2 linked regions of the Homo sapiens genome follow. Changing the gene in region 1 together with any one later gene gives a genetic interaction. Each region holds a gene or a part of one and is shown in the gene's direction. Other genes may lie near its edges.

The links. Genes that interact genetically often act in the same process or in processes that back each other up.
Region 2: changes in TTC23 (region 1) and ETAA1 are lethal when combined (synthetic lethality), as found in Homo sapiens cells (one large-scale study listed by BioGRID).

Annotation. Positions count from the first base shown.
Region 1 is NC_000015.10:99,239,582-99,243,081, reverse strand, and holds part of TTC23 (tetratricopeptide repeat protein 23), read left to right. Parts: intron 1-1,522; 5' UTR 1,523-1,717; intron 1,718-3,500. UniProt on the Homo sapiens protein: Participates positively in the ciliary Hedgehog (Hh) signaling.
Region 2 is NC_000002.12:67,403,833-67,407,332, forward strand, and holds part of ETAA1 (ewing's tumor-associated antigen 1), read left to right. Parts: coding exon 1-1,503; intron 1,504-3,500. UniProt on the Homo sapiens protein: Replication stress response protein that accumulates at DNA damage sites and promotes replication fork progression and integrity.

The DNA of each region.
Region 1 (3,500 bases):
TTTCTCCCATTCTGTGGGTTGTCTCTTCACTTTGTTGATTGTTTCCTTTGCTATACAGCAGCTTTTTTACTTGATGTGATCCCATTTGTCCATTTTTGTTTTGGTTGCCTGTACTTTTGAGATCTTTCTTAAGAATTCTTTCCCCAGACCACTGTCCCAGAGAGTTTCCCCAGTGTTTTCTCTTGGTAATTTTATAGTTTCAGGTCTTATATTTAAGTCTTTAATCCACTTTGATTTGTAAAATCAGGCTTTTATCAGCCTTTTATCAGGTTGGGGAAGTTTTTTTAATCATGATTGGATAATGGATTTTGCCAAATGTGTTTTCTGCATCTATCAAGATGATCAGATGGTTTGTGACCACATTCTACTGTATAGTGTATTATATTAATGAGTTCAGATGTTAAACCAACCTTCCATTTCTAGGATAAACTCCCCTTGATCATAATGTATTATCCTTTGTATATGTTGCTAGATTTGGTTTGCCAATATTTTGTTGAGGATTTTTGTGTCCATATTCATGAAGGGTATTCATTTGTTATTTTCTTGTGATGTCTTTGTCTGGCTTTGGTATCAGGGTAATACTGACCTCATAGAACAAGTGAGAGTTTCCTTCTCTATCTTCTGTTAGAGTTTTCAAAATACTCATGTTGTTTCTTCTTTAATGGTTTGGTAGAATACATCACTGATGCCATCTGAGCCTGGGCTTAACCTTGTATAAATATTTTTAATTACTAATTTAATTTTTTTACTTGTTATAGATCTATTCAGATTTTCTATTTTTCTGTTATTTTTTTATCACTATTTTTTTGGTATTTTTTATCTTTTTAGAGTGTTTTTCCAGTGCGTTAGCTTACATATGGGTAAGTTTGCTTCTTAACTAGCGTACACTTTCACTAGTTAAGAAACTAGTCATAATGGCTTCTTTTTTTTAACTTTTTTTTTTTTTTTCTGAGACAGGATCTTGTTCTGTCACCCAGGCTGGAGTGCAGTGGTGTGATCTCAGCTCACTGTAGCCTCCGCCTCCTGGGCTCAAGCAGTCCTCTCCCGTCAGCCTCCCAAGTAGCTGGAGAAGCCGAGCGCCACCACACTCGGCTAATTTTTGCAATTTTAGTGGAGACGGGGTTTTGACATGTTGCCCAGCCTGACCTTGAACTCCTCGGCTCAAGCCATCAACCCATCTCAGCCTCCCACAGTGCTGATATTACAGGCATGAGCCACCGTCCCTGATTGATGAGGTTTTTTATTTCCTAAAAGCCACTGCCCTGAGGGCCCCTGCCCCTTCCTCAGGCTCCCCTACATCTCTCCACAAGTCAGCCTCCAACGGTTCACACCTGGAAAAGCAGGGGACCTTCAGAACTGAGCTCCAGCCTAGTTGGCACCTATATAGATTGGTTGGCCCTCCTGCTATTTCAGTTATTATTTTGAACATCACCACTTGGAAGACTGAGACTCCACTTCAGACCTCTTCTTCCTAACACCCTGATCTGGGGCTGATTATGTGCTTTAACATTCTACTGGGCAGGTCTGGCAGAAGGAACAGTATCAACTGACTGAGTAGGTCTCATTGGCAGTTGTGATTCAGAGACCTAGAAAGCTGAACCCACGGCTGGCAAGAAGAGGATGGTTTGTGGGACCTGGGCTGATGTCTGATGAAATTTTAAGCCCCAGCTATAGCTACTACAAAGAAAAGTGGCTGATGATAAGCATGTAACTCAAAGTAAGTGAACTGAGAAGCATGTTTTTTGTTTGTTTGTTTGTTTGTTTGTTTGAGACAGTTTCGCTCTTGTTGCCCAGGGTGGAGTGCAGTGGCACAATCTCGGCTCACTGCAACCTCTGCCTCCCAGGTTCAAGCGATTCTTGTGCCTCAGCCTCCGAGTCGCTGGGATTACCAGGTGTGTGCCACCACACCTGGCTAATTTTTTGTATTAGTAGAGACAGGGTTTCTCCATGTTGGTCAGGCTGGCCTCGAACTCCCGACCTCAGGTGATCTGCCAGCCTTAGCCTCTCAAAGTGGTGGGATTACAGGCATGAGCCCCCGCGCCCTGCCTGAGAAGTATGTTTTTATGTTGAGGATGTTACTGTGTGATGCCACATACATTGAAACACATACATTTAAAGTAAGGCCACAGACTCAAATGCCTCTAGAAGCCAGACAGGTAGCATACCTCCTCCTTTCATTGATTCAGAGACGTACATTTTTTTTGGCATTTGAACATCTCTGAAATTAGAGTGAACGTTACAATTGCAAGTCAAATGGTGTATAAAAAAGCAGCATCTTTATAGTCAGTGGTGCTTTAGATTAGACGAAATAACAGAAAATGAGTGGTGTTGGCCAGGAAAATTATATCCTTCTCTGTTGGCCTTTCACTTTGAAAGAGAGAAATGGATACAGAGACCTACTTTCCTACAATAAGACACAAGAACAATGACAAATGGGAACGACTTTGCTGCCTTCATGTCCGGTAGCCAATAGGGATTGGTGGCAACAGGCAAACTGGAGAGTACCCTTGCCCCCAGGGCAGCTCCCCCTCTTCCCTAGCTGATTATTGCCTGTGGTGGCATAGATCTAGTGTTGACAAGTGTTCTGAGTTTTCAAAGGAAGTCAGAAACCCCAAAATCTACATCTTCATGTGAAACTCCTAATTTTAAAATGATGGCTCAATTTTTTTTAACTGGCGAAAAAAAATATATATATACAAGTTAGATGAGCCTATGAGTGCTCAGAATAAATATAACCTCTCTTTTAAGGATGCAATATTAAGAGGCAGCATGAGACAAACCAGTTTTTACAATTAAGCCAAAAAAGAAAAGTTAAATCCATTTCGAAGTTTAACACTAGGTTCAGAGGCCCAGAATAACAAATACTGCAGGGCCTCTTACTTATTTCATCTTTAAACTTTCTTTTCTGCCTCCCACTAAATGGAAGATAAGAAAATATAGTTAAATCTATTGAAGATGTTGCATTCCTGTTTATAAAAATGTATGATCACTTTTTAAAATGCAGGCTTAGGTTTCCAAAGCAACAGCATTTGCTTCCCACTGCTGTAGACTGTGGTCAGTGAAAGGCAGGATGATGTCATGGGAAACCCCCAAATTATGAGAAGACCAGGGTGCTAATTCTGGCTGTGTGATGTGCAACTGATTTAGGTTCATTTCATCGTCTTTATTTATAAAATGGGGATGATAATAGCTACCCTCTGTACCTTACATGGTTGTAAGGGCCACATGAGATAAAACATGTGAAAGTATAAAGTGTTATGTATATATTAGTTGGTATTGCCCAAATCACATGGGTAGTTGGGACAGCACAGGTTCTTGAATCTCAGATTCTCCATCTCTGGCTACTGCTCTTTCCCTAGACTGCAGCACCTGTTGAAATGGTCATCTTATCAGCCAGTGGGGTTGAACAGATGAGGAAGCATAAGGCAAGAAGTTATTAGAAAAAAGTTAGCCAACATCTTAGGATCTCAAATAGCACTGTGTCTCTGTACAACAGGGTG
Region 2 (3,500 bases), on another chromosome or scaffold:
AAAACTTACTAGGTAGTGAACCTTTTGCTATGCAAAATATCGACATGCCTGAACTCTTTCCTTCTAAAACAGCCCATGTTACTGATCAAAAGGAAATTTGTACCTTTAATAGTAAAACTGTTAAAAATACGTCAAGAGCAAATACAAGTCCAGATGCCAGGTTAGGAGATTCAAAAGTATTACAAGATCTTTCTTCAAAGACATATGACAGAGAATTAATAGATGCAGAATATAGATTTTCACCAAATTCAAATAAATCAAACAAATTATCCACTGGAAATAAAATGAAATTTGAGAACTCTTCCAATAAAATTGTTATTCAAGACGAAATTCAAAATTGTATAGTTACATCTAATCTGACAAAAATAAAGGAAGATATTCTTACTAACTCTACTGAAGCTTCTGAAAGGAAGTCAGCTTTGAACACAAGGTATTCTAATGAACAGAAAAATAAGTGCATTTTAAATCAGTCTATTAAAGCCCCTGTTAATACTGATCTTTTTGGCTCTGCAAATCTAGGCAGTAAAACCAGTGTTAGTAACCCAAATCAGACTAGTGCATCAAAAGTAGGTTCTTTCTTTGATGATTGGAATGATCCCTCATTTGCCAATGAAATTATTAAAGCATGTCATCAATTAGATAATACCTGGGAAGCAGATGATGTAGATGATGATTTGTTGTACCAAGCATGTGATGATATTGAAAGACTAACTCAGCAACAAGACATTAGAAAGGACAGTAAGACATCAGAAAGTATATGTGAGATCAATAATAATTCCGAACATGGAGCCAAACTAACTCAGCAACAAGACATTAGAAAGGACAGTAAGACATCAGAAAGTATATGTGAGATCAATAATAATTCCGAACATGGAGCCAAAAACATGTTTGCTATATCTAAACAAGGAAGTAATTTGGTACAATCAAAGCATTTGAATCCAGGCAGCATTTCAGTGCAGACATCTTTGACAAATAGCTCACAAATAGATAAGCCAATGAAGATGGAGAAAGGGGAAATGTATGGAAATTCTCCAAGATTTTTAGGTGCCACAAATTTGACTATGTATTCTAAGATCTCAAACTGTCAGATAAATAATCTGCATGTGTCTTATACTAACACTGATGTTCCAATACAAGTGAATAGTTCCAAATTGGTTCTTCCAGGAAGTTCAAGTTTGAATGTAACTTCAGATCATATGAATACAGAAATTACTACTTATAAGAAGAAATTGAGTACTAATCAGCCATGCCATAAGACTGTAACAGATGAAGCTCAGAGCAACCTTAACACAACAGTTGGATTTTCAAAGTTTACATTTACAAGGATGAAAAATTCTCAGATTCTTTCTCAGTTTAATCAAAATTGTATAACTGGAAGTATGTCTGATACCAAAATTACACAGGGTGTGGAGAAAAAGAAAGGTGTCAACCCATTACTGGAGGAAGCTGTTGGACAGCAATCTTTGGTGAAACTTTCTGAATCTTTGAAACAATCTTCAAAAGGTATGTATGAAATATGAAATAGTTTTCTTTGAAAAGCATCTTAAAAAGTAGTAAAATAATTATTTGTTGTTTTTGAGTGTGAGTAATGTATAAGGTAAAACTATTCTATGACTAGTTAATTTTAAGAATTAACTAGAATTCTTAAAATGATACTTGGAAATAATTATACGGCATTATACAGAGTAGTTGGTTTATTTTTCAAAATATTACATTGAATTCTTTCCCAGCACTTAATACAATGACTGGCATATAGTAGGTACTCAGTAAATATTTTTTGAATAACTTATTCTTTCTTGGAAAATCATACCTTTAGATATATGTATTATAGTGTTCATTAAGATTGTATTTACTAAATTGTTTTAAAACTTGAGTAATCTGGGAAGCAGATGATGAAGCAGTGAGGTAAATAATATTTAGAAATTTAGAGCATTCTAATTAAACGTCTTTACTAGTGTGATATTTGATATAAACGTGCTAGCGGTGATGGTTAAAATTATGATTTACTTATTTGATAACAGCTATCATTTCTGATTCTTCCAATTTCTCTTTTCCCCAAGTCTCCATTCTATCAATAAGTTTCATTCTTTCAAAAACCGTATCCCCAGACTCCATTTTTCTTTCTACAACAAGTTAACATTTCTTGATGAGACTACTGCAGTTCTTTTATCTATCTCCTTTCAATTCTTATCTCCAAACAGTGGAATAGCCTTTTAAAATTGGATGGGCAAAAATGGCGTTTCTATGCTTAAAACAACCTTCAATGGCTGCCCGTCATATTTCAAATAAAATCCAAACTGTATACTGTGACCAACAAAGCTGTGGATTATCTCTCTTTAACCTGCGTCTCCTCTTTTTTCCTTACCTACTAAGCTTCAGCTATACCAGCTATCTTTTAGTTTTTCAAACAGTGTATGTTTTTCTTCCTTGTCCAGGAACTTAGACCGTGCTCTTCCCTTTGACTAAAACTACTTCTTTTCAACATGTGACCCCTTCCCCACTCTTTTGTTGGTGCTTTCTTACATCTCAGTATAAGTACTACTTTCTCACAGAGGCCTTCCTTGAAGAGTCTATAAATAGATCTCCTTGTTTATTTTTTATTTCCTAATTGCTTTCATCACAAGTTGAAATTAAATATTTAGTGACTCTTCTCTGTCTTGTTGGCATTACTGTTCCAACTTTCCTATCTAAGTGACTTTTTTTAAAAATTTACAATAGTAATATGCTAGTTATTTAAAAAGAAAAGTAAAACAGTATAGAATAATTTAAAGGAAAAAGTTAAGTCTTCTGTTTCTCCTTTCTGATAACCATCCCTTACGGAAAACCACTATTAATAGTTGGTATGATGTAGCATTTTCTATGAATATAAAAAGATATGTGTGTGTGTATGTACGTATATATGTGTATGCATATATATATACCTATAGATCTATTTAAATATTAATAAATCTGTATACCCACTATTTGGCAACTTGCTTTTGCCTTAATATATTATAGCTGTCTTTTCCTATTAGTACATATAAATTTATTTTAGTCCTGTTAATGACTATGTGATATATATGGTGGATGTATCATAATTTAACTGTTTCTCTGTGATGGAAGTTTGGGTTGGTTGCAGTCTTTTGCAATTACAAACAATACTCCAGTAAATATCCTTCTGCATAAATTTCCGCATGCTTGTATAATTGTATCTGTTAATTCCTAAAAAATTGCTACAAGAGGAAGTTTTAAAATTTGATGGATACCACCAAATTTCTATCCGAAGCAGTTATACCAATTTATCTTATCAAAACTTACAGTAAATAATTCTCTACACCCAAGGGTGTCCAATCTTTTGGCTTCCCTGGGCCACATTGGAAGAATTATCTTGGATCACACATAAGATACACTGACACTAACAACAGCTGATGAACTAAAAAAAAAAAAAAAAAAAATCACAAAAGAATCTCATAATGTTGTAAAAAAGTTTATGAATTTGTGTTGGGCTGCATTCAAAGCCA